Homo sapiens: one gene and its partners. The protein of the gene in region 3 purifies or fractionates together with the protein of the main gene of each other region. This does not show direct contact. Each region holds a gene or a part of one and is shown on either strand. Other genes may lie near its edges.

Evidence for each region.
Region 1: the proteins of CLEC2D (region 3) and ATP7A purify together in Homo sapiens (co-immunoprecipitation; 3 studies listed by BioGRID and IntAct, with this or other methods). This does not show direct contact.
Region 2: the proteins of CLEC2D (region 3) and SLC25A20 purify together in Homo sapiens (affinity purification with mass spectrometry; 2 studies listed by BioGRID and IntAct, with this or other methods). This does not show direct contact.
Region 4: the proteins of CLEC2D (region 3) and SLC39A11 purify together in Homo sapiens (co-immunoprecipitation; 3 studies listed by BioGRID and IntAct, with this or other methods). This does not show direct contact.

What each region holds. Positions count from the first base shown.
Region 1 is NC_000023.11:77,906,667-77,913,717, forward strand, and holds the start of ATP7A (copper-transporting ATPase 1), read left to right. Parts: upstream 1-4,026; 5' UTR 4,027-4,169; intron 4,170-7,051. UniProt on the Homo sapiens protein: ATP-driven copper (Cu(+)) ion pump that plays an important role in intracellular copper ion homeostasis.
Region 2 is NC_000003.12:48,856,395-48,860,884, forward strand, and holds the end of SLC25A20 (mitochondrial carnitine/acylcarnitine carrier protein), read right to left. Parts: intron 3,234-4,490; coding exon 3,161-3,233; intron 2,808-3,160; coding exon 2,698-2,807; intron 2,238-2,697; coding exon 2,113-2,237; intron 1,379-2,112; coding exon 1,316-1,378; 3' UTR 532-1,315; downstream 1-531. UniProt on the Homo sapiens protein: Mediates the electroneutral exchange of acylcarnitines (O-acyl-(R)-carnitine or L-acylcarnitine) of different acyl chain lengths (ranging from O-acetyl-(R)-carnitine to long-chain O-acyl-(R)-carnitines) with free carnitine ((R)-carnitine or L-carnitine) across the mitochondrial inner membrane, via a ping-pong mechanism.
Region 3 is NC_000012.12:9,686,683-9,693,715, reverse strand, and holds part of CLEC2D (C-type lectin domain family 2 member D), read right to left. Parts: intron 5,815-7,033; coding exon 5,630-5,814; exon of another isoform or gene 5,555-5,629; intron 889-5,554; coding exon 785-888; intron 683-784; coding exon of another isoform or gene 601-682; intron 1-600. UniProt on the Homo sapiens protein: Receptor for KLRB1 that protects target cells against natural killer cell-mediated lysis. Inhibits osteoclast formation. Inhibits bone resorption. Modulates the release of interferon-gamma. Binds high molecular weight sulfated glycosaminoglycans.
Region 4 is NC_000017.11:73,089,656-73,096,737, forward strand, and holds the start of SLC39A11 (zinc transporter ZIP11), read right to left. Parts: upstream 3,034-7,082; 5' UTR 2,956-3,033; exon of another isoform or gene 2,840-2,955; intron 2,462-2,839; exon of another isoform or gene 2,169-2,461; intron 196-2,168; exon of another isoform or gene 59-195; intron 1-58. UniProt on the Homo sapiens protein: Zinc importer that regulates cytosolic zinc concentrations either via zinc influx from the extracellular compartment or efflux from intracellular organelles such as Golgi apparatus. May transport copper ions as well.

The DNA of each region.
Region 1 (7,051 bases), on a different chromosome or scaffold from region 3:
GCCCAGGCTGGAGTGCAGTGGTGTGATCTTGACACACTGCAACCTTTGCCTCCCGGATTCAAGTGATTCTCCTGTCTCAGCCTCCCTAGTAACTGGAATTACAGGCGCCTGCCACCATGCCTGGCTAATTTTTGTATTTTTAGTAGAGATGGGGTTTCACCATGTTGGCCAACCTGGTCTTGAACTCCTGACCTCAGGCGATCCACCCACCTCAGCCTCCCAAAGTGCTAGGCTTACAGGCATGAGACACCGCGCCCGGCTTATATATCATTACTTTCTTGGCTGAGAGCTGTAGTCTGTGGTAGTTGTTTTGTTTTGTTTTTTGTTTTTTTTTTGTAGTTTTCTTGATCGTGATCAATTAAGCAGAAAGTAGAATTTCAGTCAGGTAACCTGTCTATATTAGCTAAATTATCTTTTGCTTATTACATAGAGTGCTAGAAGTATGCTGTCATGGCATATGTCCTAGTTTCTCATCAAATGGACCAAAGTCAGTGATTTTATTTGAAGAGGAAAAATTGAACGTCATTGTAAATTAAGTTGCAAGTTTAGTAACCATATTGTACCACTGTTTGATAAATTTGAACGCTTTATGGTATTTCATATTTAGAATGTTCAAAATAGTACTGAAGTATTCAAATACATACAACCCTGAGCGATATTGAAGTAAAATAAACATGTATTTAAGGAAGTGTCAACCTTCAATTATATACCTTTTTGTCACTGAATTAACACTTATTTCTCACGACGTGGAAGCAGTTTCAGTATGGTTTGTACTAAGCTAAGTGATAGTTGTCATCTGTATGACAATTTAGAATGTTTTCTGTGTCCATTTGTGATCAAAATTATATGTTGCTTTGTGTGATAAAACCTGGTGGTGGTAGTAACTTTGAACACACTTTTTGAACTTAATTTTGTAGTTAATCTTATCCTGATGAGTAATTCTAAAACTTATGACCACTACTAGAAATGAAGCAGTTTTTTGTGTGTGTGTGCCATCACAGTATATACTGACCTTGGAGCTTTCCTAGTGCTCTCAGAGCCATGAAAATATCCTTTCACACAAATTTTCTCAACTTACCCGTAACATCGCTTTGAGTTTCAGTCATACCTAGAGTTGGAAAGTCGTCAAATTAGTCCTCTGTCCTCAAGTATCTGTAAGTCTGAAGAATTTAGGTAAGTTACTTACCTTAAAATCATTGCCAATCCTTTAAACTCTATTTGGATGGCTGTGAAATATTTTAACATTAGGGTTAATGTCATAAATCCCATTCTTTTTTTTTTTTTGAGACCGAGTTTTGCTCTGTCATCCAGGCTGGAGTTCAGTGGTGTGATTTTGGCTCACTGCAACCTCCGCCTCCTGGGTTCAAGGGATTCTGCCTCGGCCTCCCAAGTAGCTGGAATTACAGGCGCCCACCATCACACCTGGTTAATTTTTATATTTTTAGTAGAGACAGGGTTTTGTCATGTTGGCCAGGCTGGTCTCGAACTCCTGACCTCAGGCGATCCACCTGCCTCGGCCTCCCAAAGTGCTGGGATTACAGTCGTGAGCCACGGTGCCCAACCTCATAAATCTCATTCTTAATTTCACTCTAGGACAGAATTATTGTAGCACCTGTGTTCTGTTATTTTAGATTCATTTTAACTTACCTAGACACGGGTACTGTGGTAGTTGTAGAGGTACAGATGTTGAGTTCCCATCCTCCTGGCTTAATGTCACTGGGGTTATTAATACACTTCATAAGCATTTTAGGGACACCTGCTGTCTGCTCAACCCCCAGCAAACCTGATTATTTCTTGAAGACATTCCCTTCTATGCTTGTGCATTGGTAAGGAGGATTAGGGATGATGCATTTAAAGACAAGAGTTTTAGGCTGGGCCTGGTGGCTCATATCTGTAATCCCAGCACTTTGGGCAGCTGAGGTGGGAGGATCATTTGAGGCCAAGAGTTCGAGACCAGCCTGGGCAACAAAGGGAGACTCCCATCTCCACACACAAAAAAATAAAAACTAGCCAGGTGTGGTGGTGTGTGCCCATAGTTCCAACTACTTGGGAGGCTGAGGTGCAAGGATCGCTTTAGCCCCGGAGTTTAAGGTTACAAGGACCTATGATCACACTTCTGCACTCCAGCCTGGGTGACAGCAAGACTCTCAAAACCAAACAACAACAAAATATATATATAGCTCTCTAGGTTTTTATGTTAAATATTAGAGTGCCTAAGAATGTACATGGTTGGCAGAGGATCTTGCAGCTCATAGTGATAAACTTTAGTATTTACATAAAAATACTAGATAGCTAGTAGATTCAATGTTCTGCTTCTGAAAAAGATATATTTTTGGTTTTGCCTTTTAGTGAATTTCTTTTGGATGCTTAACACAATGTTAATATAGTTACAAACCAACTTGCTAATATTTGGAAACCCACTTAAAAGCTATCTTCATTTCATATGATGTGATTTTTAAGATTTTAAATTTGGGGCTGAGTTTGTATCTTAATAATTAAGGCTGCACACATTGACAACTACAAAATAATGCCTGGGAAGATGAGTCCTGAGGCTAATTTTATATTTATGTGGATGAGTGTGGAGGGGGATAATAATTCTGAAATACTTAATCACAGACCTAAAATGTAGATCTATGGGTAATTTTAAATGTTGCCTGTCAAGGCTTAATAGGGACTTGACAACAGCTAGGATGGAAATTATTTCAACACTTAAATATGCTTACTTTGTGCCGGACGCTGTTCTAAGTCTTTTACAAATATTTACTTGATATTTGTATTTTGTGTACTATTTTGATTTCTGCAACATTATTAGGCTTCATACTCTTCTGTGGGAACTGGGTTCAAATGGTTCCAGATGAAAATACAAATAGTCCTGTGATTAGTTTTGTTCTACATCTTATGACAGATACTTCATGAAAGGAAATATGAAAAGGCCACATCTTGCTTTGAAATAAGTGAGATGGAGCCTCTCCCTCTTTTTACTGTTAATGTTCATAGTTTTAAAAATCCTAGAATTTTGCTGCTTTTCAAAATGTTAAGTTGGAAAGCAAGAATAAAATGACCCTTTTTTCAAATGTTTTCTGTACCATTTATTGCATTGTTTACATTTTATGCATCTCATTTCTAAATGAACTCATGGTAACAGAGACTGTAACACTTTTGCATCACCGGAATCTTCTAGGTGTGTAAAATGATGGACGAGTGAATGAATAAATGGGGGAGTGGTTCAGAGCTTGGAATGGCGCTATGAAGGTGGTGAAGTGACGTCCCTACCCCCTCAACACACATATAAAAATTATGAATTTATAAACATTTTCCTCTTGATGTAATTTTTCAATGGAGGGAAGAGGATAAATTCATAGTTCTGGCACTTACATCTGGAATTAGGCTACACAGTCTACGGGAAGCAAGTTAACACAGTCTAACAGATGCACGTGAATTTCATGCTGGGCGAAGATGAACTATGTGGAAGATGACTTATAAGGAGCTTTTATGTTACATCTTGGCAGTTAACACAGTCTAACTGATGCACGTGAATTTCATGCTGGGCGAAGATGAACTATGTGGAAGATGACTTATAAGGAGCTTTTATGTTACATCTTGGCAGTTAACACAGTCTAACAGATGCACGTGAATTTCATGCTAGGCAAAGATGAACTATGTGGAAGATGACTTATAAGGATCTTTTATGTTACATCTTGGCCTGAGGTTAGGAAACTAAAGATGACAAAGGCACTGTTTTAGTATGGGTTTTCTGGTTTCGCTTTTGTCGTGGGGGCGGGGTGGGATAGTGGACTCGTACCCTAACAAAGACCCACTCGAGGCTGCGTGTCGGCCCGGGGGCAGCAGGGGGCAGGAGAAGCTGGCTCTAGACCACGCGTTCCTTTTCACGTGACCAGTCGCTCTCTTTCCCGTGGCGGCCCTGCTTCCGGCAGGGGCATCACCCGGAAGTGGGGGTAGTCGAGGGAGGGAGGGGTAAAGGCGGCTGGCCGCCGCGGCGGGGGGTGGGAAAAGAGAAGCAGAGGGAGGAGTTGTTGCTGCCGCCGCCGCAGCCGCAGCTACTGTGACTTCTCCGATTGTGTGAGCTTTGTTGGAGCCTGCGTACGTGGATTTATCGCTGCCACGGTCTGCGTAGCTCCAGAGGTTTAACCATAGGATAGAGAAACCAGGTAAGTCCTACATTGGCTTCCCGTCGTCCTTTCTCCTGGAGGGGGTCTTCTGTGCTGTCAGTTTGTACTACGAGTGTGGTGAGAAGGTCATGTTAGTCTGGGGCAGTCTCGAAAGTTTCACTTATTCACAATTCAGGTATTAACTACATTTATGTTTTACCTCCCCTAACAGGGGATAGAGGAGGGGAAATTAAATCCTGACCTGTGTCACTTTCTTGTACCCTCTTGGAGAGAATGTCCTGATCATCCATGGCCTACGTTACCCAATTAATTGAGGGTACAAGAAAGTTTGTGTTTGGCATTGAAAGTCACATGGACTGGGGTCTTTGCTTAGTGACACCTCTTTATACTTTGGAAGCTAAGGTTACTAAAATGACCATAATTGATGAAATAATAATTGAAAAATAGATATTTGGCTTCTTGTCTTGCTCTGGGAGCGTAAGGTAAACTGAGAGAACTCTTGTTTCCACTTAGTTTTGTTCATTGTGCCCCCTTTCCAGTAAAGTTACTGTCCATTGTCCGACCCTGTGGCATCTTATCTTTGACACTTTTCTTCGTTGTAGACGTTGAGATTATCTTAAGCACAAACACTTATCGTTTCACAATTCAGCGTTTGTCCAGGATCTGATCTTTATTTTAATCACAGACTCTTTATCTACAATAGTATGGCTTTGTATTGAGAATATGTGCAGAACATTGAATTAGATGATACTGAGGTTATTAATTTTTTTTTTTTTTTGCCGGGTGCGGGGGGGTGGTGGGGAGGGGGTGATGCACAAGAAATAAGACAGAGTTCCTGGCCTCAAAAGAGTTTACTTACAGTAGGCTGGGCGCAGTGTCTGACACACCTGTAATACCAACACTTTGGGAGGCCGAGGAGGGTGGATCACCTGAGGTCAGGAGATCGAGACCAGCCTGGCCATCATGGCGAAACCCTGTCTTTACTAAAAATACAAAAATTAGCTGGGCGTGGTGGCGGGCGCCTGTAATCCCAGCTAGTCGGGAGACTGAGGCAAGAGGATCGCTTGAACCTGGGAGGCGGATGTTGCAGTGAGCCGAGATCGTGCCACTGCACTCCAGCCTGGGCTACAAGAGCGAAACTGTCTCCAAAAAAGAAGAAAGAAAAATAAACAGTTTACATACAATTGAGTCCGAATTGAGTCAGTTGAATTCAGCTATGAAGACAACGGTTTCTAGCAGCCCCACTGACTGAATTACTAGGTTGCTTATCACATCCTTTTCAATGGTTATTTTTGAACTGGCATTTTATTATATTTAACATTTTCTGGTGTCTAAGGTCATGACATGAGAGAGTTTTTTTTGTACTTGAGGATCTCAATGTAGTAGGAAAGAAAGATACACGATTACCTAAACATTTAAAAAATCTCACTAACGTTATATATTAGAAACAGGAGGTGTTATGAGAGTGCAGGGAAGGGAGCATGTGAACTGGGCTTTGAAAAATAGATAGGATTTAGCTTTGCAGGAATGGAGGAAGAGGAAGACATCTATCTGGACTGATAGATAGAAGAAATAATGTGAGCAAAGCCATGGGGGTCTGGAAAGTTGCCCGACATCCAGTAACACACTGTAAGTCAATATTCCTATTTCTAACAGCCACATCTTCCAAGATGTCACTGATTAAAATTAGAAAAAATATAGAATACAAAACTAGTCAGCTCACAAACATATCCAACTGCCCTCCAGCCAATAAGAAAGCTTATATAGAGAAAAAAATACATGGAAATGACAAAAGCAATGTTAATGTATGAGGCTTAATTCTGATGTAAACTCAAATCTAAAAGAGAAAAAATGTAAAACTCGCTATACTTTAATTCTGATTGAGTGTTGTGCCTTAAATATAATTTGGAATCATTTTTAAAATTGTTGGGAATGAATAACATTTTCTGAAGTGAGCAACTGTTCCAGGTTTTCCCCAAGGAATCTCTGCTTTTCCTTTTTTCCTCTAAATTGATTTCTCTCTATTGATCTTCTTAACTTGATAGGAACTATTCTATTCCGATCACAGCCTTAGAAAGATCTTGATGCCTGCCCTCAAGATAAGGTTAAACACTAATCCCTCCAAAGGATAGGTTAACATCTCTGTTCTCTAAAGCAGAAGGTTGATTTTCTTTGAAAAATGCTTGCAGAAGCAGTAAAATTTGCTTACAAAACAAGAGAGAGAGAGAAAAGAGTGCAAAAATAACCCCAGCTAACACACCACAACCTTCACTTCTGTGAGGGCGCTAAAGGAAATACATTTTAAAAAAATAAATTCCTTGTTATAACTCCTTTTATCTATATATTTAAAAGCTCTTGGCAAACTTTATTAATCAAGACTTTGGACATCCTGATGAGTGAAAATAATCTTCATTTGCCAGTTGGGAAAGTAAATTGCAAGGAGAGATTTTTGTCTGAACTCATAGAAGCACTAGCATAGATGAGAATAGTATTTGGGAGTTTTGTCTCAAAATTCCTTCTATTCATCTTTGTTAAAGGGCAGTTCAGGTTTTAGCGTTTTGTTTTTAGACAACGATATTTCTTAGGATATAGCTCAACATGGGGCCGGGGCAAGGGGGAGGCTGGGGGACAGATGAGTGATAGGCAATGGTTAGGCAGAGTATTTTAGTTCACTCTACCATCCCAGCAATCATGTTTTTCCCTCTTAAATCTCAGTCTTCAGGTTGATTTAATGTGATATTACTTGCTTACTTAACTTGCTGAGATAGTTTGGCAGGAAAAATATCAAAATTCCTTTAGAATGTGTTTCATTAAAGTAAAAGGGTCCTGTGTTTCTGATTTTATAAAATGTTCTTACTTTTTCCAGCACTGTTTGCAAATTGAAGTGATTTCCTAATCTTTTTGTGCCCAAATGTATGAGA
Region 2 (4,490 bases), on a different chromosome or scaffold from region 3:
CACCAGAAAGTAATAATCTAGCTTATGACTCTCCAACTCCCTCACCTTTTCTGGACACACCTGGATAGCATAATCTGCCTGATTAGTAAAGTTAAGCTAGCTACCTCAGATCGCACAGCAACTCCAAAGCCCACATGAAAACCCGAGATTGCTTTTGTCCTTTTAGAACAACTGACTCTCCATCTGTTAGCTCAGACACCCATGGTGCTCAGGGAAGAGAGGGGAATAAATGAAGGGATGGGTTGCAGGCTGGGCCTTGGGAGGGCCTGTCTGCCAGGCTTGCATTGAGGCCTGTGTGAACAATTACCAGTCGGGTCACACCACCCCACACACCCTCCCTAGAGCAGCCGGGGCTAGGGCAGTCAGAGAAGGCAGAGCCAGCCAAAACTTCCTCCTCCTCCACCTCCTCCTGCTGGATCCCCAGCCTAAGGTTCCCAGGGAAGAATACTGGATCCCTGAAAGCCTCCACCAAGGCTACAGGCTGCCTGCTGAAATGTCCCAGAATCAAAAGAAGAAAATATAACACAATGCAAAAATTAGAAACAACGTTTATTGTTTATTGTTAAAATAGTGAGCTCTCATGAGAAAAGAGTATGTAAAAAGGGCCTTCCTACACCCTGGGCTTTCTCACTTATCCCAGCAGACTGGGACTGTCCTCACTGTGTAGGAGGGAAAGTTCTCCACCTGCTCCCAGAAAATTAGGCTACTCCAGTTTTACTTTTGATTATTTGCAGGCATAAAAAAAAAAAATCAAAATCCAACGATTAACAGTCTATCTCCTCCTAGGCATATATGCTCAATCCACTTGGACACAGAGGTGGGCCTCAAGTCCATATCCACATGTACAGCCCAGGATTAGATGGCACCCTGGAAATCAAATGGGTATTCCTGGCTAGGGACTGAAGAAGATCTCAGCTCCTGGTGATCTGGTTGAAAATATGCACAGTGCCTCCAGTGAGAACCTGAGATTCTCTCTTTAATGAGGAATACTTTGACTGTGGTAGGACCAGCAGTTAACTGGTAGGCAGCATTCTTGCCACAGGTAGTATCTGGTCTGGAAGCTACTTGTTCCATTTCCAAATCCTTTTAAGATCCCTTAAATTGATAAGAATGAATTCAAGTTTCAAAATGACACACTAAGTTATACACGGTGCAGGATGTCATTAAGGCAACAGTCTCACCAAGTCCATGCACAGGGCTCGGATCTCACCATTCCCCTCCCCTTGCCCTCCAAGACTGCTTAGTTCTGCTTACTACTCCTTCTCCTCAACGACAGCTTCCAGCATCCAGAAGTGAACTTGAGCAGCCTTCAGCCTCACAAGTTGGGGGTGGCCCAATTAAGGAACTTCATGGCAACTTCAAAGCCAAGGAAACAGGCCTAAGAAGGGATTGGGAGGAAGAAAAAAGCCAGCAGGAATAACTATTCATAGACTATTCAAAGCACTATGCTTTGCTGGCCCTGTCAGGACCAGAGCCCCTCCCTAACCCCACACCCACTCCACATCAAGGATGCAAGCTCTACTCTCTCATTTTTAAGAGGAGAAGAAAATTTATATTCCACAACTGCCCACTTCTTTTTTTTTTTTTTTTGAGATGGAGTTTTGCTCTTGTCACCCAGGTTGAAGTGCAATGGTACAATCTCGGCTCACTGCAATCTCTGCCTCCCAGGTTAAAGTAATTCTCCTGCCTCAGCCTCCTGAGTAGCTGGGATTACAGGCACCCGCCACCACGCCCAGCTAATTTTTGTATTTTTAGTAGAGGCGGTGTTTCCCCATGTTGGCCAAGCTGGTCTCAAACTCCTGACCTCAGATGATCCACCTGCCTTAGCCTCCCAAAGTGCTGGGATTACAGGCACTAGCCACCATGCCTGGCCTCACAACTGCCCACTTCTAATGGCCAGGTCAGGAAATCAAAGCCCCTCACCTCAGAGATCCCCAAAGGCAAATCCTCCTGACAGCTTCAAGGAAGGGAGCAAATAAGGAATGCTCTGGCTGAAGATAGGGCTTTGGGAAAACTGAGACCCCAGTCCTATCCCAGGAACAAGCAAAAGTCAAACCACATGCACCCTGCCCTGAGCCCCAGAGGGAAAGCACAGCCCTGCCAGCTACTCACCGCATTGGCTGGGAAGGCTCGGATCATCACTGCATTGAACCCTTTGTACAAGGATGTGACTCCTTCATCCCGGATCAGCTCCCTCAGCACATCTCTGAAACCATTAGGATATTTCCCAGGAGGTGCTGTGGGGCAGAACCCAATTTTTAAGGCTTCAGGAAGGAGAAACTAGCAGTTAAGTCTTCCTGAAGGGTCAGGACTAGCACAGGGAAAGGACACCTTGCAGGTCATGTGGGACCAGTCCATAGACAACAGTTCACCTTGGGACAAATGCACAAATGCCTGAATTACTTGTGCCAAGGGAATAGAAACGAGGGAAGAAGAATGAAACAGCCCTTCTGTTCATGTGGGGGAGGAAGAGTGGACTTGACTTCTTATCACACTTACCTTGTGTTTAGGCTGTCATGAAAATGAATCTAGGGTTCCTAGAATGCAAATGACTGTGAGGGAGAATATTGGTCAGGCAGATGCTAGGTGCTGCCATGGAGAGTGAGTATCCCTAGGGCCTTATGAGCTTTGCACCCCAGGATTAGCCAGTGCTGGGGACCCACTCTCCCCCTGTCCACCCCACTACCTTCCACTCACCAGTCTGGAATCGAGACTTGAGCACATCTGGGGGGATTGCCACAGCCCAGTTGAAGATCCCTGCAATGCCCCCAGCCACCAAGATCCGAGGGGCACTGAGCTCACTGACCCTGTATAACACCAACCACAGCCCCAGTTAGACAAAGGCTGTGAGAGTGGCATTCAGACTATCCTGCCTGTGGCAGACAGGGCAGTTACAGACAGGCAGAAACTGGTTGGAGGGAGGAGGTATAAGGCCAGTGCTGCTGGCACTCCTTGGAGAAGGTTTCATGCACCTGTTTCAAATATTTGCTCCACTGGCTGAGGCACAGAGTAAGAAGAGCTAGCTGGACCTCAGCAGCCACAAGAGGAAAGCAGACATGGAGCCAGGAACAACAACTACTTCTGCTTTCAGATTCACCCACAGGAGAGGGCAACGCACCCATGACTGGGGAAAGTGGCTTCCAAGTTATGTTTTCCTCACCTCTTTCCCTCCGGAGTGAAGATATTTTTCAGCCATTCATATGTCATGAAATACATTCCACTAGCTGGGACATCTGTTAGTGGCAAGAAAAAGGTGAATTAAAGTACATAAACTCTTCGCCAGGCATGGTGGTACACACCTGTAATCTCAGCAATTTAGGAGATTGAGGCAGGGGGATTGCTTGAGGCCAGGAGGTCCGCGCTTGGCCTGAATTATTAGTAAAATTGTTTTTTAATTGGGTGACCAGATTTGGTTCAATTTATTTGCTTTCTAAACATTAGCGTATGGTAGTAATTTATGTAGACTAAAAAAGCATTAAAAAGAAAAAAATGCCAGGCATGGTAGCTCATAACTGTAATCCGAGCACTTTGGGAGGCTGAGGCAGGCACATCACCTGAGGCCAGGAATTCGAGACCAGTCTGGCCAATATGGCGAAAGCCTCGTCTCTACTAAAAATATAAAAATGGGCCGGGCATAGTGGCTCATGCCTTTAATCCCAGCACTTCGGGAGGCCGAGGCGGGCGGATCACAAGGTCAGGAGTTTGAGACCAGCCTGACCAACATGGTGAAACCCCGTCTCTACTAAAAATATAAAAATTAGCCAGGCGTGGTGGCGGGCACCTGTAATCCCAGCTACTCAGGAGGCTGAGGCAAGAGAATGGCTTGAACCCGGGAGGTGGAGGTTGCAGTGAGCTGAGACTGCGCCACTGCACTCCAGCCTGGCTGACAGAGTGAGACTCCATCTCAAAAAAAAAAAAAAATACAAAAATACAAAAATGGCCAAGCGTGGTGGCTCACACCTGTAATCCCAGCACTTTGGGAGTCCGAGGTGGGCGGATCACGAGGTCAAGAGATTGAGACTATCCTGGCCAACATGGTGAAACCCTGTCTCTACCAAAAATTAGCCGGGCATGGTGGTGCATGCCTGTAGTCCCAGCTACTCAGGAGACTGAGGCAGGAGAATCGCTTGAATCCAGGAGGTGGAGGTTGCAGTAAGCTGAGATCGAGTCACTGCACTCCAGCCTGGTGACAGAGCAAGACTCCATCTCAAAAAAAAATAATAATAATACAAAAAATACAAAAATTAGCCCGGCCTGGTGGCACATGCCTGTAATCCCAGCTATTCAGGAGGCTGAGGCACAGGAATCACTCGAACCCAGAAGGTGGAGGTTGCAGTAAGCCAAGATCACACTAATGCACTCCTGGCTGGGCAACAGAGCAAGACTCTGTCTCAAAAAAAAAAGAAAAAGAATATAGTATTATTATTATTATTACTTTACTTTTTTTTTTTTTTTTTGAGACGGAGTCTCGCTCTCTCGCCCAGGCTGGA
Region 3 (7,033 bases):
CAGTCACAATGTGCAAGGCAGTGTAGATACAACAATGTATAAATGTACATGTTCTCTGATTTCTAAAACTTACCATCCCATCCAAGGTCAAAAGCTAATGAGAAAAAACTCATTTCAAACCTGCCAATGTCCAGTCTGGGGCTCTTTTTATTAAATAAAGTTATATTTCCAATATTGATGAATGTATTACAATAAAGTAGCTTTTCAAAACTGTCTCATCTCTCAGACAAACATTGAGTGAAATTGTGTGAATCCAATTTTTCCAGCATTATCTCAAATCTTTTTAGTAATCTGAAGATCCTATAAATATACAATTGAGATTAAATTTTCTAGTGCCAAACTTTACCCATTTTAAAATTTTAAAACTATTGTCTTATTTTAAATAATAGGTATAATTGCTGTCACTCATAATCTTTCCCTGATACATCAAAACCTCTGTTCCTCACATCAACCCTGTGAAATCAGGAGGACAAGTGCAATTTAATTTTGTTGTGGAGGTAAGGAACAGACTTAAAGATATTGTATGGTTTGCTTAAAATGAAAGTGTTTGAAAATGACATAGATAAGCCTGGAGCCAAGTTCACAGTCAGTCTACCTCACCATGACAGGTCTTGGATTCATTCGAGGAACTTGTGAAACCTTTGCAACATACAAGTTGGCACCATCTTCTTTCATGACTAACCTTAAAATGAGAATTTTTTAAAGCATGTAACTAGAGAACACTTCAGATTTAATGCAAAGTAAATTCAAATACAAATATTACTGCCAGATTTTTAGAACTTACTGTCTTGTCCATTCAGTACCATTTATCCATTTCCATGGTTGGCCTTGTTCTCTGCTCAGCCCAATCCAGTGATCAGATGGGCCTTTATATCTCAACAGGAAATTCTTTCAGAAAACACAGAGATGATATTCATTAATCTAACATAACCCATCCTCTCCCAGAAATGTTGCTGCTATGCTATATTCTTAACTACTCATAATTTTCTTCCTTTTGATTTTGTATTGTTTAGTAATACATACAGAATAGGTGTGCTATATTATCATACATATCAAAAGAAGATAATTTAAAACTGAGAGAAATTGTTGATAATTTGGTTACTTTTGTTTCTGTATTGTACTCCTTTGTATGACTCTTCTCCAATTTATCTATTATACTATCGGTTGACACCAGGGTTTTATCAAGTTTGGAATGTATGCTACTATGACATTCTTGGCACCTGTCCTAGAATAGAATTTTTAGGCCCCAGGATATGCTTTTTGTCAACTTTAAGAAATGACACCACCAGGCCAAGCACCTGTAATCCCAGTACTTTGGGAGGCCGAGGCAGGCGGATCACCTGAGGCCAAGAGTTTGAGACTAGGCTTGGCCAACATGATGAAGCCCCCTCTCTATTAAAAAAAATACAAAAATTAGCTGGGCGTGATGGCATGCACCTGTAATCCCAGCTATTTGGGAGGCTGAGGCATGAGAATCATTTGAACCTGGGAGACAAAAGTTGTAGTGAGCCAAGATCACGCCACTGCACTCCAGCCTGGGCAATAGAGTGAGATTCTGTCTCAAAAAGAAACGAACGAACGAACGAACGAAAGAAAGAGAAAGAAAGAAAGAAAGAAAGAGAAAGAAAAGACACCAAACTAATGTAAGTGTACCAAATTATCCTCACAACAGCAGCAGCATAGGCTGGTTTCCTTTGCTGTGTTTCCTTGTCAATGTGTACTGTCCTTTTTATGATTACAAGTTCTGAATTTTAACGCAATTAAATATATAAACAATTTTCTTTATTATTAGTAAATTTAGGGACTTATTAGGTAAATCTTTTACTCTTTCAAATCATAAAGATGACTTCTATTTTTGTTTTACTTTTTTTAGTTCCTTACAGTGTACAGTTAGGCTATGGATTTGAGATCTTTCTTCTTTTTTAGTTAACTGCTCACAGCTATAAATTTCCCTCTTAGAACTATGTTCAGTGTATACCATAAACGTGCTATTTGTATTTTTACTTCATTTGTCTCAAGGTATTTTCTAATGTCCCTTGTGATTTCTTCTTTGACCAATGGCTGTTGAAGAGCGGGTTTTTAAATTTCTACATATGCGTGACTTTTCTGGTTTTTCTAGTTATTGATTTCTAGCTTCATTCCATTGTAATTGCAAAAGATACTTTTTATGACTTCAAATTTTCACACTTACTAACACTTGTTTTGTGGCCTAACATATGGTTTAAGAATGTTCCATGTGCATTTGAGAAGAATTAATATTCTGCTCTTGTTGGGTAGATTCTTCTGTATATGCCTGTTAGGGATAATTGGTTTATAGTGTTGTTCAAATTTTCTATTTCCTTATTGATCTTATGTCTAGTTGTTTAATCTCATGTTGAAAGTGGAATATTTCATTCTCTAACTTTTCATAGAACTGTTCTTTTCTCCCTTAAATTATAGCAATTATTGCTTCATATATTTTGAGGCTGTATTATTAAGTACATATATTTTATAACATAATTATTTGGCTATGTCAAAATTTTTGTCAATGCATAATGCCCTTCTTTTTCTCTTGTAAATTTTACTTTAGTTTATTTTGTTTGACAAAAATATAGCCACTCGGCACTATCTTGGTTACTACTGTTTGTATGGAATATCTTTTTCAGTCCTTTTACTTTCAACTTCTTTGTGTCCTTATATCTAAGGCAAGTCTCTTATAGACAGCATGTAGATGAGTCTTGTTTTTCTTTTTAATTTATTTTAGTTTTTAGCCAACTTGTCAGTCTCAGCCCTTTAATAGGATGGCTTCATCCTTTTCTATTTAATGTGATTACTAAAACAAGATTTACTTTTGCCATTTAATCATTTGTTTTCTCTATATCTTATATGTCTTTGTTTCTCAAGTTGTCTGTTACTGACTTTTTTTGTATTTAATTGGTTTTTTATAGTGTATTGTTTTTCTTTTTTCCTTTTCTGCATAATTTTGGTAATTTTATTAGTGGTTACCTTGAGAATTATAATTAGCATCTTAAACTTGTAACAATATAATTTCATAATATCAACATAGCTTCAATAACTATGCAAACATTTTGATCCTATATGTCTTCATCCCTGCTTCATAAGACTGTCACAGATTGCATCTTTATACATTATATGACCACTATCATATTTATAATTTTTATTCATTTGCCTATGAAGTTATAGATAAATATAAATATAGAAAGCTATAAATAGGAGAAGTTATAAACTATATGACACATGTAGTAATTCTGGGTTTTATATTTACCTCTATTGTTACTTTTATGAATATTCTTTATTTTGGAGGCTCTGAATTGCTGTCTAGTGTACTTTCAGTTCAGCCTAAAAGGTTTCCTTTAGCATTTTCTGTAGCACATGTCTACTGGTAATAAAATCCCTTAATTATTGGTTATCTGAAAATGTGTTACTTTTTCCTTCATTCTTGAAGGACAACTTTGCTATACATAGAATTCATGGTTGGCAGTTTTATTTTTTCTTTCAGACATTTAAATATGCCATTCCACTACCTTCTGATCTCCATGGTTTCTCAGAGAAAATCAGCTATTAATTTTATTCAGGGTCTTATGTAAATGATGAGTTGCTTCATTCTGGCTGCTTTCAAAATTCTCTCTGTGGATTTTGTCAACTTGACTATATTTTGTCTCAATGTAGATCTCTTTAAGTTTACCCTTTTGGAGTTCATTGAGCCTCTTGGATGTATATATTTATGTATTTCCTCAGATTTTGGAAAGTTTTGTTCATTATTTCTTTAAGTGTATTTCTCTGCTTCTCTTTCTCTTCTCTTTCCTGGATTTCTACAGTACATATGTTAGTATGTTTGCTGATGTCCTACAGGTTCCTTAGAATTTATTTATCTTCATTCTTTTTCTTTGTTTTTCTTAGTCTGGATTGTTTCAATTATCTTATTTTCAAGTTTTCTGATCTCTTACTTCTCAAATCTGCTGTTGAACTTCTTCATTGAGTTTTTAAAATTATTTTTAAATTTCAGTCATTGTACTTTTCAGCTCTGGAATTTTTGCTTGGTTCTTTTTTACAATTTCTACCTTTATATTGATATTCTAATTTTGTTCATTTATTATGTTTTCGGTTTCCTTTAGCTTTTTGTCTAGTTTCCTTTAACTCATTGGTTATACTTAAGACAGCTGATTTAACATTTTTGACTCATATTTTTAATATCTGAGCCTCTTCAGGGATAGTTTCTGTCAGATTACTTTTTCTTCCTGTGAATGAACCATACTTTTCTTTGCATGTTTTGTAATTTTTTTTTGAGAACTGGACATTATGAATACTATGTTGTGGTAACTCTGGTAACTTAATTATTTTGCTCTTCAGGGATTGTCAAATCTTGGTTGTTGTGGCTCAGAGTCATTTGGTCATGATTTTTTCCCAACTATTTTTATTCTCTGTTGTGCATGGTCATTGAAATCTCTGTTCTGTTATCTCTGCTGTCAGCCAGTTATCTAATAAAAATTGTCTTAAATGACTGCTTCCTAAAGGGAGGAAAAACACATACTATTTATTTAAATCCTTGGGAAGCCACTTCAGCTGATGAGGACTGATGCAATGATAGCCCACTTCTGTGTCTGCCCCTCAGCATTCAAAGGCAGAAATCAGCAATAACCCTGACATTTGGACAAAAAGGTGCTTATTGTTCACCCTGGCTGCAGGAATTCATTACAAGAACATGGGCAGCAGTTCCCATGGATCCCTGCAATAATGGGGTATGGAAAATAGTTATTATTGAGTGGAAAGGCTGAAATTCACCAACATTAACCAAAATTTATCATCCTCTTTATCAAACTCTTCCCTTGATGCTTCCAGTGTTTAACTAGACTCGAGAATTCCAAAATAGTTACTTCAGACAGTTTTTGACAGTTCAATAGTTTTCTCAGTGGAGGAACAGATTTCTGTAGCTTTTTAGTCTACCAACCTCTATGACATCATTCTTGCTTGACTTATTGTTTTTATTTTATTATTTTTTTGAGATAGAGTCTCACTCTGTTAGGCTGGAGTACAGTAGCATGATTTCAGCTAACTGTAGGCCTCCACCTCCCAGGTTCAAGCAATTCTGCTGCCTCAGCCTCCTGAGTAGCTGGAACTACAGGCGTATGCCACCATGCCCAGCTAATTTTTGTATTTTTTAGTTGAGATGGGGTTTCACCATGTTGGCCAGGCTGATCTCAAACTCCTGACCTCAAGTGATACACCCGCCTTGGCCTCCCAAAGTGCTGGGATTACAGGCATGTGCCACTGCTCTTGGCCTTGTTTGATTTATTTTGAAACAATGTTGCTAACTTCATACAAACTTAAAACTGGGTTTCTACCAATACTTTTCTAATCCTTATTTGCACAATTCTGGCTCACAAGTCAAAGAAGGCTCTGGCTTGCTTGCCCTCTGGGCCTGTTCCTGCCACGAATATTAAGGTAATTTTAGATGGTTCACTGTAAAATATAATACATGCTAGGTTACTCTTTCGTTATGCAAAAAAAAAAAAAAAAAAAAAAAATCAATGTAAAAGCAGATGTCTAAACCTACCTCTTAGATAATTTCACAGGAAAACATATCCTTGTAGGGCTGAATCTTTGATTCTGGCCAGAACTATTTTCTTACCAGTTCCTGGAAGCTTTCAACCTGAGCAAGATCAGCATCTTGTGAGTCACAAAACCTCTGACTTGATGTCCAGTTCTTGGTGTCATCAGAAAAATAGAAACACTTTCTTTGAAAACCAATCCAGCTTTCTGGGCATGCAGCTTGAAGACATACTGATGGCTCTTGATGGCAGTTAGCTCTTATTGCTGAAAATAAAATAAAAATAAATAAAATAAAAATTTCTTACTTTTATATTGTATTGTATAAATTACCAAGTGCTAATATACTTTCTGACACTCCTGTTAAGTATTAAATGTATTATTTTCATTTTTCAAGTGAGAAATATGATGCTAAATATAATTGCATACATTACACAGCAAATGGCAAAACTGAGATTCAAACTCATGCCTTCAGCAGGGGGTGAGCTGAAAAAGGAGTTATTAGTAACTTAAGCTTGCTCTGGGCCATGTATCTATTTGGCTCTCAACAGTGTTACCCTTTCTTAAAATATTAGATACATTAATGATAGCATTTGATCAGCTTTGGAGAACAGATAGTTCTCCAAGTGCTCTAGATTAGGGGTCCCCAACCCCTAGGCCATGGATCAGTACTGGTCCATGGATGAGTCAGGAAGCAGGCTGCACAGCAGGAGGTAAGCAGCGAATGAGTAAGTGAAGCTTCATCTGTATTTACAGCCACTCCCCATCACTCACATTACCTCATGAGCTCCACCTCCTGTCAGATCAGCAGTGGCATTAGATTCTCATAGGAGGGCAAACCCTATTGGGAACTTCTCATGTGAGGAATCTAGGTTGTGGGCTCCTTGTGAGAATCTAATACCTGATGAACTGTCACTGTCTCCCATCACTCACAGATGGTACCATCTACTTTCAGAAAAACTAGCTCAGGGTTCCCACTGATTCTACATTATGGTGAGTTGTATAATTATTTTATTATATATTATTACACAATGTAATAATAATGGAAATAAAGGGCACAATAAAAGTAATGCACTTAAATTATCCCCAAACCATTCCTTGACCCCAGTCCATGAAAACGTTGTCTTTCACAAAACTGGTCCCTCATGCCAACAAGGTTGGCGATTGCTGCTCCAGATGACTTGGTAAAATGAAGGGCAGGATAGAGATGCCTTATGTGAATAAGGTTTCTTGATGTGAAAAAGCCTTGTATATGTCTAAATACTATCATAAATATGAAATAAGTTGTTGTACAGTGAACTTCCTTCCACTAAGGAGATTTAGTGAGGTTTTCTACACTTTGAAGGCAGCAATACTTCACTGGACAGGCTTTTCTGACCCACTTCTTATATAATCAGGAGAAATGCTCTCTTCATGTGGGATCGAGATGAATGAATGTCTCTCCAGATAGTTGTCACTGAGCCCCTAGTAGCTACCAGTTCATCTT
Region 4 (7,082 bases), on a different chromosome or scaffold from region 3:
AAAATAGGGCTTTGTAACCCCTGAAAAATATGTGCTGGATGGAAAAGGGCCAGCTTACCTGCACAGGACAGTCAGCAAGGACAAGCAAAAGGACCCAGGAATGGAATGTCCCCTGGTCAACTCAGCACCCTGCTGCTGAAGCTGAAGTTACACCACCGCCCACCAAGGAAAGGAAGGGAAGTACCACTCCCTCTCATTTCAGTCCAGAGAACCTCCTCCAGACTTTAACATGCTTAAAATTCTGGATCTGAGATGACAATCAGATCTCTCCCTGTGGAAAGTTACAAGGCAGAGAAACCCATTTGTTGAAAAGCCCTGTGTTCTGGTACACAAACACTGGGCTCAGGGCCTCATATCAAAGCCTCATTCATCTCCCTGATGGTCTGCCAGCACCCAGAGGGCTGGCTGGACACAACCACACTGGGCTCAGCCCTGCCAGTTCCCGGTGCTCTGTGAGGAGCCAGCAGCCCTGAGCCTGCAGATCAAGAGCTGAAGACGCTGCCTCGATTGACCCTGGAAGGAAACCATGGCAGAGTGTGGACGCAGCCCTTATGCCAAGCGGCTCAGCAACACACCCAGGCTCAAACCTAGGAAGGGTATAGGTCCAGGTGAGCCCAGGTGAGCCCTGGCTCAGCCCCTGTGCCAGAAACTCTGAGATAAATAGCATCTATGGAATCAGACTCTAGTTCCCGCACTCTAAACGAACTGCACCAACTGTGAAAACTGTGACCACGCCAATTAAAGAAAAAAAAAATCATTTTCAAAAAACTACTACCCTTTACATCCGTCATCTTGCTAAGCCACCCTAAAAAGAGGGGTTGGTCTTTGTTTTTAAACCAAGCCATCTGGACCATTACACCAATCATCTATTCCGAGTTGCTGTGGACAAAATTTCAAACAGCATTTACAAAGAACAGCACAAAGGGATCATCCTCTTAGTACTTATCATCCAAGACAGGGCATAACAAAAACACCTTTCTTTCCTGTATTTGAATGTGCCTCTTGACAGCTACAGAAGAGAGCAAACAATTTACATTTGCCAACAGGCCAAAGTCAATGTGGATCTTGTGGGCTGGTGAACAGAACAGAGGGAGCTCGTGGGTGTTCCTGGTGGTTAGTGGGATAGGGAAACACCCGTCTAAGCCTGTCCCCATGTATATCTGAGCACCCTCCTGAGTAAGAAAAAGGGACACAGAGGGAAGACCGAGGCCACCATCCTTTCCATCCCAACAGGAGCAGCATTGATCACGGGCAATGCAAGCCCAGTGCCCCTCGGAGAAGTTTCTTCTCTATTTGCTGTTTTAAATCCTCGCTACAAGGGTGGTCAGAGAACCAGCAGCACTGGTCCGGCTTGGGAGCTAGTTAGGAATGCAGAAACTCAGGTCTCACCCCAGACTTTCTGAATCAGGGTCTGCATTTTGTGGAATTCCATGGGGGATTCTTATGCACATTAAACTGTGGAAAGCAAAAGATTAAAACTGGTAAAACTTGGCCAGGCGCAGTGGCTCATGCCTGTAATCCCAGCACCTTGGGAGGCCAAGACGGGCAGATCACCTGAGGTCAGGAGTTCGAGACCAGCCTGGCCAACACGGTGAAACCCCATCTCTACTAAAAACACAAAAATTACTTGGGCGTCGTGGTGTGTGCCTGTAGTCCCAGTGCCTGTAGTCCCAGCTACTCGGGAGGCTGAGGCAGGAGTAATCGCTTGAACCCGGGAGGCGGAGGTTGCAGTGAGCCGAGATCGCGCCACTGCACTCCAGTCCGGGTGACAGAGCAAGGCTCTGTCTCAAAAAAAAATAAAAATAAATAAATAAATAAAACTGGTAAAACTTCTACAATACCAAGAGCTTAGAAAATGAGTTCTCCTGCCCCATGTGGGATTGGCAAGAGCAAAGAAGAGTCCCAAAAGAACAGAAAGTTTTCTGCAGAGTCTCAAGAGAAGAAAAAGTTTCTGGCAGAGTCCCAAGAGAACAAGAAGTTTTCTCTAACCGGCAGACCAGTAACAACTTTAGGACACAGCATCTCCATCACAGCTTACACAATGGGGCTCAGAATTCCTCACGATGGGGATATTAATTCCATCAACCCTGATTCGTTAGCAGCAGGGAGAATCATTCTCTGACCGTTCCAACTTTTAACATGCCAACAGCCTGTAGACTTGTACACACCTGCCACAGCAGCACATGGGCATTCCCGGCTGATTGATACAGGTTTGTTTTCTTTATTTCCTTTCTCCCCCTTTTAAACCTGTTGTTCCGCTTCCAAGAGTCAGTTCAAGAGGCTGGTGAAGTTGCAGAAGTGGAAACAGCACTAGGGCTGCTGGGCCTTAGTGGAGCTGCACACACATGCCCTAACTCCACGAGGGGGAATCCAGCAGAAGGATTCAGGTCTGGGCGGAGAGGACTGTGGAAAAGTTCTCTAATGCCTCGCTACTCAAAGCGTGGTCCGCGGACCACCCAACCTGGGAATTAGTTAGAAATGCACACTGTCACGCCCCACCCAGACCTGCTGCAAGTTAACCAGATTCCCAGTCAAGTTCCAGAGGTCCAGCTAACAGCCAGAGCAAGTGGGAGGGGCCTGGGAGCAGCTGGATTTGTAGCTGCCTCTGCTCCCAGGAATCCCGGGTACCCCCACACACCGCCTAGGAAGGGACGAACGAAGAGGATTTGGGTTAGGACTGTAAAAGGAAGGCATGTCATTGCCTTCCAGATCACCCTGGAGAGGGACATAGCCGGGGTCCGGGGACTTCCTTCCCACCGCCCCTCACCCTCCCACCCCGCCCCGACACCTGCCAAAGCCTCCAATTTCTCCTCCAAACCCCTCCTCTCTCCAGGCGTACCCCCTTCCAAGCTCCAGGTGGCTGCCCTTCCAAGTCCCACACTCTTGTCCTGATGGCCTCCGACCCCGGGCCTCGAGCCCAACCAAAGGCACCGAAGGAGAGAAAAGCCAACTCACTAGGGTGCCCTCTCCAGCCCCCACTGCACTTCCATCAGCCCCCGCTGCCACTCTCTCGCCGGCTCCACTCCCGCAGTCACTTCCTGCTTCCCTCCCGCACACGTGGCCCTCCCGCCTCCGGGCCCCGCCCCCTTGGCCGCAACTGGCAACTCCCGCCTGAAGAATAGATTCTCTGGTTCACAGCCGTCTGCAGGCTCAGGAACAGATCTGGGCGGGCAGAACAGAGCCCTGAGGCCAAGAGCCCAGCAGTCTGCGAGTGACTGCAGCCCTAAGGGAAGCTACAAACACCCAAGGAAAGAGCCCTTTGTAACACCCCTGATGTTACTTATGCTTCTACACCTTTGGCAGCCAGGTCCATGCCACTGGGTGCGCAGCAGAGCAGGATGTGCTGTGTGTGTGTTGCGGGAGAGGCTGGGGGCGGGTAATGTGATGGCATCGGCATCATTCTCCAGTCAATGACCCTCAAAAGAATCACTGGAGGGGGTCAAACACAAAATGCCAGCACCCCCAGAGGCTCTGGTTCCGTCATTCTGGGTGGGGCTGACATTTTGGGATTTTTTTGTTTTTGCTTTTGTTTTTTTGAGATGGAGTCTCGCTCTTTCGCCCAGGCTGGAGTGCCGTGGCCCAATCTCGGGTGATTGCAGCCTCTGCCTCCTATGTTCAAGCGATTCTCCTGCTTCAGCCTCCCGAGTAGCTGGGATCACAGGTGCATGCTGCCAAGCCCCGCTAATTTTTGTTTTTTTTTTTTTTTTTTTTTTTTTTTAGTAGGGACGGGGTTTCACCACGTTGCCCAGGCTGGCCTCGAACCCCTGACCTCAAATGATCCACTCGTGTGGGCCTCCCAAAGTGCTGGATTATAGGCATGAGCCACCGCGCCTGGCCTGAGATCTTGTTTTGAGCTAGGAGTTGCTGATGCTGCTGTCCTGGGACCACCCTTTGAAAAGCACTGCCCTAGGTCAAAGGCTTTGATCTGCAGGATTTCTGTGAAAAGACCAGAGGATAGGATTGACTAGATTTAGCCAAAAACAAAACAAAATAAATAAATAGATAGAAACAAGATGCCTGGGCTGGGCGCTGTGGCTCACGCCTATAATCCCAGCACTTTGGGAGGCCGAGGCGGGCAGATCACAACGTCTGGAGATCGAGACCATCCTGGCTAATACGGTGAAACCCCGTCTCTACTAAAAATACAAAAAATTAGCTGGGCGTGGTGGCAGGCGCCTGTAGTCCCAGCTACTCGGGAGTCTGAGGCAGGAGAATGGCGTGAACCCGAGAGGCCGAGCTTGCAGTGAGCCAAGATCACGCCACTGCACTCCAGCCTGGGCAACAGAGCAAAACTCCATCTCAAAAAAAAAAAAAAAAGCCTGATTAAATTTGAATTTCAGAAAAATAACGTCATTTATTACTATAAATATGCCCCGGGCAATGTGTGGGACATACTTATGTTACAGGCATATTTGTTGTTGATCTGAAACTGAAACCCAGCTGAGTGTCCTGTGTTTTATTTGACAACATATCAGAGCGTGACCTGAGCAGAAAAGCTACCCGTGGTCTCGATGGCCATAGCCCAAAGGGTCCAATAACAGGCCTCTTTCTTCCAGTGGAACTAGGTTGTTCACACTGACGGTCGCACCATATACCAAGCACTCCATGGGGAGGAGAAGACAGCCTGGCCACTGGAGGGTGGTCTTTGCCCTTAAAAGACCCCCAACTTGGAAGAGTCAAATCAGCCATTGCAATTCCACATAAGAGAGTATGTACAGGCACACAGAGACACAATACCCATGTGGCACGGCCCATCAACTCATCTTCCAAAATGTCATACCTCTTCCTGCACGCTGCAATAGCCATAAAATGACACAATATCTTAGACTCACTTCAAAATATGATGGAAGAGAAAAGTGGATGGAGTAGAGATTAAACAAAATTGGCCATGAATTAACCATTCTTAGGCTGGGCATGGTGGTTCACACCTGTAATCCCAGCACTTTGGGAGGACAAGGTGGGCAGATTGTTTGAGCCCAAGAGTTTGAGACCGGCCTGGGCAAAAAAGCAAGATCTCGTCGCTACAAAAAGTTTTTAAAAAGTAGCTGGACATGGTGGCAGATGGTAGCTGGGCCTGTAGTCCCAGCTACTAGGGAGGCTGAGTGGGGAGGATCACTTGAGCCCAGGAGTTTGAGGCTGCAGTGAGCCGTAATGGTGCCACTGCACTCCAGTGAAAGACCCTGTCTCTTAAAAATAAAAAATTAACCATTGTTGAACCTGGGGAACGGGCACGTAGAGGTTCATTAAATGTTTCTGTTTCTACTTTTGTGGATGCTTAAATTCTTTTCTTTTTTTTTGAGACGGAGTCTCGCCCTGTCACCCAGGCTGGAGTGCAGTGGTGCAATCTCGGCTCGCTGCACCCTCCACCTCCCAGGTTCAAGTGATTCTCCTGCCTCAGCTGGCCTCCCAATTAGCTGGGACTACAGGTGCGTGCCACCACACCCAGCTAATTTTTTGTATTTTTAGTAGAGACGGGGTTTTGCCATGTTGGCCAGGCTGGTCTCAACCTCCTGAGCTCAAGCAATCCACCTGCCTCAGCCTCCCAAAATGCTAGGATTACAGGAGTGAGACACTGCGCCCAGCCGCTTAAATTCTTTATAATGAAAAATAAACAGAAATGTTTACAACGATCCACAAAGTGCCTCTCCTGCCCAATCCTTTCTCTCCTTTCTCACTGCTGCTGTGAGGATTCAACCTGCCCATCCCTCATCTAGGTCATGGAGTCACCTCCTTCCACTCCACCCTGTCTAGTCTGTTCCATGTAGCACCGCCAAGATCAGCCTGCCTAAAGCACAGCACATCACACTCTCCTGCTCAAAAAGCTCCGATAGCTCCCCAGTGCCTTTGGCATAAAGTTCAAATGCTTCAGCCTGGAATTTGAGTTTTGCTGTGGTATGATTCCAACTAAACGTTCTCAAGTCTGTCTCCCAGGGTTCTCCTCCCTGTGCCCTCTGGCCAAGCCAGGCTGGACAGCTCGCTGTCCTCCACACAGCCTTCCCTCCCTGCCACTCCTATCTCCCTTATACCATTTCTGCTGAACTGCCCTTCGCCTCCCAAATCTAAGCCCCACCATCCTGCAAGACCCAGGTTTAATGCATTCTCCTTGGGCACCCCATCTGACCTCATCTCCCACCTGTCCCAGCCCTGGTTACAAATCGAGTCTCTATCCTCTAAGGTCCCATAGAACTCCATCTGGATTCTAAGGCACTTGCCTCCTTCTGTCTTATACTGTAGGATCTAACTTCACTGCTATATTCGGCATACAGACCCAGGATTAGAATCAAGCTCCTTACTGAGCTTCTTCCCCTCATCCCAGCCAGGATAGCACCTCATATTATAGCATGTCCTCAAGAGATGCTTGCATGCAATGCATAGGTAAACTTGATGTGGGAAAGGAAAAGTGGGGAAGCAACTAACATTTGTTGAATGCCCAACCTGGGCCACTTTATCTTTATATCCTCTTCTTATGTAAAACTCACAACTCTGAGGGGAAGGTATCATTATCCCCATTCTACAGATAAGGAAATTGAGGCTCAGGAAAGCTCTGGAGTGACCCAAGGTCCATGGGGCAGTGTGGGACACCAAGCCCAGCTGACTCCTGAGATGGTGCCCTTCCTGCATGGGGCATTCAGGGCTCACAGGATGAGACCCAGAGCCACCTTGATCAGCATTTCTGCATCTCACTTTCTTTAAACCACACCAAGCCCATAAGCGGGAGGGGTGCTAACCCCCAGGAGACAAATCTTACCATTTCCCCATCTTTCTCAATAAACTCCCACACATATGCCCACTCCGCAAACATGCAAACTGCCCCCTTTCACATACTTCCTTACAGTCAAAAGGGCCAGAGTATTGGCCAGAAGAAAATGTTTCCTGGGCCAGGTGCGGTGGCTCACGTCTGTAATCCCAAAACTTCGGGAGGCTGAGGTGGGTGGATCACGTGAGGTCAGGAGTTCGAGATCAGCCTGGCCAACATGGTGAAACCCCATCTCTACTAAAAATACAAAAATAAGCTGGCCATGGTGGCAGGCGCCTGTAAGCCTAGCTACTCGGGATGCTGAGGCAGGAGAATCGCTTGAACC